3 separate regions of the Homo sapiens genome follow, and regions 2 and 3 are each linked to region 1. The links come from fine-mapping of genetic effects on gene expression. A gene starts in region 1. Each other region holds a variant in brackets. All regions are shown on one strand. Distances are from middle to middle. Region 1 holds the start of IFI16 (interferon gamma inducible protein 16). Region 2 overlaps IFI16 (interferon gamma inducible protein 16). Region 3 has its middle 9.0 kb from the start of AIM2.

The links. PIP is the estimated chance that this variant, and not a neighbour inherited with it, causes the effect.
Region 2: its variant is the best candidate, but not a certain one, in a credible set for the expression of IFI16 in whole blood (INTERVAL, PIP 0.72).
Region 3: its variant is the best candidate, but not a certain one, in a credible set for the expression of IFI16 in whole blood (INTERVAL, PIP 0.88).

Annotation. Positions count from the first base shown.
Region 1 is chr1:159,008,529-159,011,297 of GRCh38, reverse strand. It overlaps IFI16 (interferon gamma inducible protein 16), which reads right to left and starts at 1,391. Exons shown (of 12, transcript NM_001376587.1): 1 at 1,137-1,391. RefSeq lists an enhancer at 1,455-1,534.
Region 2 is chr1:159,048,600-159,051,368 of GRCh38, reverse strand. IFI16 (interferon gamma inducible protein 16) reads right to left here. Exons shown (of 12, transcript NM_001376587.1): 9 at 1,770-1,937. Among named protein-coding and RNA genes, the nearest start is that of AIM2, 27 kb to the left of the region's middle. The variant AT/T (reference allele first, on the strand shown) is at 1,104.
Region 3 is chr1:159,084,431-159,087,199 of GRCh38, reverse strand. It overlaps a transcript of AIM2 not described here. Among named protein-coding and RNA genes, the nearest start is that of AIM2, 9.0 kb to the right of the region's middle. The variant G/A (reference allele first, on the strand shown) is at 1,334.

The DNA.
Region 1 (2,769 bases):
ATTCTCCTGCCTCAGTCTCCTGAGTAGCTGGGATTACAGGCACACATGACCATACCCGGCTAATTATTGTATTTTTAATAGAGACAGGGTTTCGCCATGCTGGCCAGGCTGGTCTGGAACTCCTGACGTCAAGTGATCCGCTCGCCTTGGTCTCCCCCAAAGTACTGGGATTACAGGCATGAACCTCTGTGCCCGGCCAAAAAAGCAAACTTTATAATAGGAGATTTCAGTTTATGCTTCAATTACTAAATGAACAAGGTGAAAAAATCTGTAATGATATAATAAATTTGAACAACGTAATTAACAACATTTATCTAATAAAATTCTGAAAACAACATTTAAGAATCTCACATTCCATTTAAGCACACATGAAATATTGTACCAGGCTATAGAAAACATCTTTTAAAAATTTGAAAAGTAAACAATAGTAACCTTTTCCTAACTGCCTTCCCCTCCACTCCCCTATACCTTGCCACAAGGAAAAAAAAAATCATTAACTTTCAGGAGGGCAGAGAGTAATTCCAAAATGATTGAAATTCTGCCGCTAGCACCCGGTGCAGAATGGAGCTAAAGTAAAGGATCAATATACTTATGAAAATATTAAGACACCATGTGCTTGAGTAACTGTGTTTGTGAAACTGAAAAAAATTTTCTACTCTGTGTACATTTGTTCTTATGTTTTGTAAAATTGGGATGATGTCATATAATACATCTCTATGCTCAGATATGTTTTTTACTTAATATTCTTTCATGATACTTTTTTCATGTCACTATCTTGAGAACCCACCACAGCTACCGAGTTTCCAACACTTCTTCCAGCCAAAATAACAGAAGCCCTCTTCTAAGTACCAACTTATGCCAGTATACACTCGGATAATTAATTTTAAAATCTGCAACGGTCAAAATGCATTTTCTCTTGTTCAGTCCTCAGTTGTGGTGGAATAGAAGATGCCTGTTATCTTCCTAAGTAAATGAAGGATTCATATCAAGCAACTCAGTTTTCACTTTTCTGAATACTCAGCCCTACTCCCATCATCCCATGACCCTGAATAACCAATACTGATTGTCCCCTTGTGATTCTGGGGACTTCAAGGAAGGAACAAGATCATATTTACAAAATCAGGAACAGTACTCACCTCACTGGAAATTTTTTCAACAGTAGTCCAGATCTTGAGATCTTCAGAAATGCAGGAATCAATGCTTATTTGTGTGAGGGGGGAGATAAATCAGTAAAGTTCCCAGAAACGGAACCGCAGGATGTTGTAATCTCCAGAAACGCTAAGAAAATGAAGTATCTGCAAAGATAACAAGGAAAAAAGGCCTTGGTTGAGTCACTTAGTTAGCTGACTAGTGCTGGCTTGCTCCTATTCTGCTATTGCCCCAGAGAAAATGGAGTAGGAAACAATGTGGAGACTCCTCCCACCAGTGTTTTTAGCTTTCGTTTCTGTTAGTCAGAGAAAATGAACAGTTTCCTGGCAAGGGCTGGAGCATGTGGTGAGGGGAAATGGGGGATGAGAAATTACTTTAATGGGTACAGTTAACATTTTTCGGGTGATGTGCACACTGAAATCTCTGACTTCACCAATATGGCATATATCCATGTAACGAAATTACACTTGTATCTCATAAATGTATATAAACACAAATAAGTTTTTTTTCTTACAAAATTCGATAGCTGAAAGGAGTTCCAACATTAGAACTTTCTTACCCAGCAGACTTACATGTGAGTCATTAGAGACTTATATTCCCTTAAATGATGCTCAAATATAAGAGAAGCAACATGGCTTCTTCTCCCCTCCTTTCCTGTGCACAGAGTGGCAGTGGCAGGAGGAGATCTTGGTAGGAGCATCTATTGCTACCAATACTTTACTGCATCTCCTGGTTGGGGAAATGTCTGCTATGAAATCGCTATTTGTTTAAATACTACCTGAAGTATTCATCCAATTATTAATAACTGACAAGCCTGGGCTTTCCAGATCAGAAAGTCATTATGAATATGTAAATCCTTCCTTAAATTTATATGAAGGAGTTTAACACTAGCTGTCCTCTTGACCATGACTAGGTTACTTTACCTCAATGATTAGATTCACGAATGCTCAGATTTTCTGCATTATTCCTGGATAAACAAACGTGGATAGTGGACTCTCAACATGACAGCATCGAAGACTTGAAAATCCTGGAAAATGCACTGAACTTCCGGTAGTGTGAGGAGTCTGTTTAATCCTCTGCTCAGCAGTGTATTTTTCTCTGTTAAGGACAGTGGGTGCCCTTTAGCGTGCTGTAACCCCAGGATGTCAAATAAATGGCATCAACTAGCAGATGATGTGGTGTTAACCCAGCAGCAGATCTGCAAGCAGGATGTGGTCATGAGTGGAAAAGGGGCCCCATAGACTGTTAATATGTACTGTCCAAGGCCATCTACAGAGCAAAAGAAAGCTGATTGTTTTAATCCAAACTAGGGCCATGAAGTGAATAGCTGAATTCTGGATTTGAAACCATATGAATAACTTTATCAAAAAAGGAGTAAGTCAAGAAAAAGCAAAGAGGATCTGGAATGATGGCCATAAACATCTCTGGGTGTTCGTGATAATCTTTTACTGGCTTTAGGGTACTCTTTACGTGGATACATTGAGTTGGCCTTAAGGCAGTAGGTAGAGAAGGATATTAAGGCAGTCACTGGGAACCCCAATCCAGAGGTCAAAGGGTAGAGAACCCTTGGAAGTTATGACCCTTCAGAACATTTTCTGCCTTTTACTTATAATCATTTTA
Region 2 (2,769 bases), 40 kb before region 1:
TAAAGGCAAAGCTGCCATGAAGTGACTCCCAAAAGAGATGAGATTTTAGAAGAATCTCAGTTTTACTCCTTTCTACCCAGGTCAGGTCATATTGAGCACTGCTGGTCCGTGGAGGCAGCTGTCCTGCCTCCATGTTCTGGTCTCTAGGACTCCCTTGATCCCTTCTTGCCTCCATACTTCCTCTTCCAGATCAGCAGCCCCTCCAATTCAAAGTGCTCTCCTACAACTCAGAAATAGTGCAGGCCACTGTGGAGAGAGGAGGTTAAAGAAAAGTTCCCTCCTGCCTAATATGACAGTGACCAAATAAAATAAAAATAGAGAAAAAAATCATATTACTAGCATTCAGAGTAAGGAATAGTCTCAACCACAAACCTTAGATTTCATGAGATTTCAGTTGGAACTCATTCTAGTAGATAGGGGCATTTTAAAGAACCAAATTGCAAAGCCCTTTCTAATGAAGCAGCACTATGTTGCAAAAACATCATTAAGGCAGCCACTGGAAGACTCCACAAACTTTCCTAATCTGAAGGGGCCCAGGTTAGAGGCTCTCCAATCTGAATAATGGCAGGAACTAAAAAGAGTCATGGACGTGAAAAATTAGGCGGGAGGGGACTTTTCTTTAACCTCCTGTCTCCACAGTGGCCTGCACTGTTTCTGAGTTGTAGGAGAGCACTTTGACTTGGAGGGGCTGCTGATCTGGAAGAGGAGGTATGGAGGCAAGAAGGGATCAAGGGAGTCTTAGAGACCAGAACATGGAGGCAGGACGGCTGCCTCCACAGACCAGCAATGTGATCTGACCTGGAAGATGATATTGGCCACCTGTGAGTGATGGCTTTAACTCTGATGGACTTAACTCTAATGAACTCATCAATGTGGCCAATTTTCCATAACATTAGGAAACCCATTCCCAATGAAGTTAATCAGTATCAAATCACCTCACAATAGCCATGACATCAGTACCCTGACACAAGGTGCACAGAACCTAAGGAAATAATTATAAAGCTACTCTGAGGGCAATGAAAGAAGATCTGAGAGACATGTGATCTTATTATGTTCGTTGTAAATACACAGAATACTGGAAACAACATAAAGCCAAATAAAAA[AT/T]GATCATTTTTATAATGTATGGAATAACTGTGCAATTTTTCTAGTACAATAAAATAATTTAAATCTATATTGTATGATTGCATGGCAGTTCACGATATATTAATAAAAAACATGGGTTATGGAAAAATATGTGAATGTGATTTACTCTGAGAGAAAATAAGACTCTTTGTATATACATACTGAAAGGTATAAAATCAGAAAGACCATGTACTGAAATGTGGCATTAGATAGAGATTTCTGACAGTTAAAAGTTATTTTTGCTTATGTACCTTCCTTTCCTAAATTTTTAAACATATTGTTTGAGTTATAATAAATGAAAGGGGAAAAATCAGTGATAGTGTTATGGGTGGCTCTGTTTTTTCCCACCTTGTTCTACTTTAAGGTATGATTTTCATGATGTATTGAGGGAAAAACAAAAACGTAAGCCAAAAGAAAAATAAAATTAAACAAACATCTAATTATACCTGTTATGGAATAGAGATGATAAAAACAGAATTTTAATTTTGGATAGGACCTCAAAATACACACTTGATAAATAAATGACTGATTTGGTTAAATTAAAGCATTGTATGTAGTAGGGGATTGGTGAGGTGCTTTCACGGTTGTGTTAATCCTTGTCATTATATAGTAGCGAGGGGAATGTATTGGGAAGAGGGAACTTGTACCGTGGTTAAGAAACTGCTGCTTGGTGTTGATGGAGGCATCTGAGGAGTGTGGGGATGGCTCTCAGCTGGGCCTATGCTGGTCATGAACGGTCCTGGAAAATGACTCCCTTCCTTCAGTATCTGCATCCTCATGAAGTCATTCATTTTGGAGATTGTGTCTTCACTTTTCTAAAGGAAAATAGATGTTTGTTCTTTTTTTCTAGTTAATGTTTTTCAAGATCAGATGAAACACATCTTTTCCTTTTTTCTTTTTTAAATAGGATGTTCACTTTGCCAGTTTCTCTGTTTTTCCCTGAGTTGCAGGAGGAATAATACCACATATTCAGATACTTCTATCACTCAGCCTTCTCTCATCCCAGTCAGGATTAAAAACTCAGATAACTGAAATTGCATTGTCTGGGGATGGAATACTCAGTCTTCACATCCTGTAAAACTGGACTGAGTTATTTGGTCAGGTACAACTCTTAGGGCTATTTTGGGGGCAGCATGGCTTGCAATAAAGTTGGCTACATTTATGGACATTTATTAACTAGGCCTTTCTCATCAATTAGATACACAAACCAGTCTCTCTCAAGTGCTCTTCAGCATACAAGAAACCCAGATCTCCATCCTTTAGGGATCTCTGATCGTAGCCATAACAGGAAGATTCTCTCAAATTCACAATTCCTCAGGGAAGGTTCTATGATCACTACAGTGTGGATCAGGCTATCAGAATCTTTCAGGGTTTTTAGCTGTATTCAGAACAATTTAATATTCCACCTAAAGCATTCCCATTAGCTATATTTTTATACATTTTTCAAGTAAGACTGGAGAATATCTCTAAAATCACATACCTTGACTACCTTTAATTAAACTAATGGAAGTCCAAAAAATATTCACCCTATTTGGCCAATGTGGCACATTATTTTAGCAGTTTTGCCATTCAGTAACCTAATTTTTTAAGTGGCAATTGTTGATAGAGAGGTACACAAAAGAACTGCTTGTAGTGAGCTCACATGGA
Region 3 (2,769 bases), 76 kb before region 1:
GGGTTGGGAGCCTAGGTCAGTGGGAGAGTTGTGGTTCCATTAACAGTAAAAGGGAAGTAAGAATGAGAAAGTACTTAGAGTCCTAAGACAATCAATGATTTAGGATATGTAGAGGTTGAATTTTTCATTATGTATTTAAATAAAAATGTGTAGCACAAAGTTTCAAATGTACACTTGGAGTTTTAAGGTGGTGAGTCTTGGTGATTTGAGTTTGCAATTATTTTATACAGATTCAGTTTCTGCCCCTAAGGAGTTTACACTTCACTGAAAAAGGCAGACAAGACATTAGCCCTCATAAAACAATATATTGATAGTCATAATAATAATGGATAGAGTTTACTGAGTTCTTTCTTTCAGTTACTTTGCTTAGTGTTTTAAACATGTAAACTCTTAATTTTCACAACACCTTCTAGGATTAGGGACTGACAGCCTTCAATAGACTAAGAGACTTACTCAAGGCCACACAGGTTGGTGGAGCAGGGATTTTAACTTGCACGGGTGTAGTGCCCAAGCCTGTGAGTTTACTTCTTTCCACTTTATTGCTGTGATGGAAAGTCCTGGAGATGATGGGAAAATAAACAACAGGAGCACTTAGCTCAGACTTGGGCTTGCAGGATTTGAAAACAATTTTGGAGAAAGTGAGATATAAAGAAGGACCTGGGGGTGAGTAAGAATTAGCCAGATGGGGGAGGAGAAGTAGAGGGCGAGGTATGTGCAGATTCACCTGGAGCCTAGTGTATGTGGGCAGAGGGAGGCCAGGAAGGGCCTGGCCCCAGAGCGCTCTGATGAGCTGGCCAACAGGAAAACAGAGGCAGCCTCATGTCACAAACAAAGCATCCATGTTTATGAGGTGGAAAGAGGAGAGACACTGACAACGAGGACAAAGATAGGTGGTTCAGAAGCTGGAAGAGCTTTAGGATCTGTTCTCTGGCTTTTATTAATATTTTTGCCTCACCCTTGTTGCCTTTTTACCTGCTCCCTGTTTCAGTACATTGATATCAAATATAAGTAGAGCAAACCAAATTAAACATCATAGAATGATGGGTAAAATCTGGTGGAAGCAAATAATTATCTGTTGGATGTTTCCTAGATCTGAAACAGGATTTGCTAGATCTGAGCCCTATCCTTCTTTCCCCTCACACTCCACCACCAGCTTTATTGAGGTATAATCAACAAATAAAAATTGTATATTTACAGTATACAACGTGATGTTTTGATATTTGTGTACATTATGAAATGATAAAGTTAATAAACATGTCTGCCACCTCACATAGTGTGTGTGTGTTAGAACATTTAAGATCTACTCTCTTAGCGATACTCAAGTACACACTAC[G/A]TCACTGAGTGCCATCTTCCTTGAAATACTCTTTGCCTTGCCTTCCAGCACTCCACCAGGTCTGGCTTCTTTTCTCTACTGCTCTGACCTTTCTTTGTAAGTCTTCCTTGTTGACTCTTCCTCTTTAGCCCAACCACTTGCTGTCTGAGCTCTACGTGGCTTGGAGGCCTGCCCCCTTCTCCTTCATGATGGCCTCTCCTGACAGTCTCATCCTGTTCTGCAGCATCAGCTGCCATCTGTATTTGGATGCTGCCCACGTTACTGTCTGGAGTTCTGACCTTTCGTCTAAGCTCCAGGCTTATATATTCAATTAAACATCTCCATTTACATATCTCTTGGGCACCTCAAACGCAACACCTCCACCGCTAAACCCACATTTTCCTCACTTACTTTGACCTACTCCTCCTTGGGTACTCCCTGTCTCTGTAATGACACTATCATTCACCTACTTTCCTGAGCCAGAAATCTGGGAATAATTCTGGAATCCTTATCTCTCTTGAATGAGTTTTTAGTGGCCATGTGTCACATTTGTACCTTCCCAGAACCTTTTAAATAATTCACATGTAATAATTCTCACGTCCCCAACTCAGAAGACAGGAGTCAGATTCTCATTTTTTTTTTCTTGCAGCCCAGATGGACACAGGTGACCTAGGCTTGCCCTGTCAGATGCTTCCAAGGGAGGCTTGATTTAGAAGTCATCAACATGAGAACCTGGCTCTCCATGGAGTTTCCATCTTGCTGATGCGGCTGGCTTCAGACATCTGGGTTTTAGGCAATAGCAGCAATTGCGAAGTACATACGGAAGTGGCATTTGTTCTGTAGATTTAGCAATTGCAGTGTAGTCAGGTCTTGGCATTATATGTTTAGGGAGCAGAAACAGTGAACTTATCCAGAATAGTTTTGTTGCCTGGTTTGGTGTGTGTGTATGTGGGTGGAGGGAGAAGGTGTGGGAAACACATTTTTGTTTTTTCTGTGAGTTTAGTCTTGACCTTGTTCCTTCAGTCCTTCAGACTCTCCAGTGATCTCTGAGGGATGTGTGTGTGTGTCTGTATGTGTGTGTGTGTGTGTGTGTGTGTGTGTGTGTGTGTATTTCAGACAGGGTTTTGCTCTGTCACTCAGGCTGGAGTGCAGTGGTTTGATCACCACTCACTGCAGCCTCAAACTCCTAGACAATCAAGTGATCCTCCTGCCTCAACCTCCCAAGTAATTGGGACTACAGGCATGTGTCACCAAGCCCTGCTAATTTTTAAAATTCTTTGGAGAGATAAGGTCGCCGTTTTTTGCTCAGGCTGGACTTGAACTCCTGGCTTCAAGCGATTCCCCCGCCTTGGCCTCCCAAAGTGCTAGAATTACAGGCATGAGCCACCGTGCCTGGCCTGGGTTTAATATTTTTAATAAAGTTTCTGTCTCCTTAAACTATCAAGGGAAGCTTATGT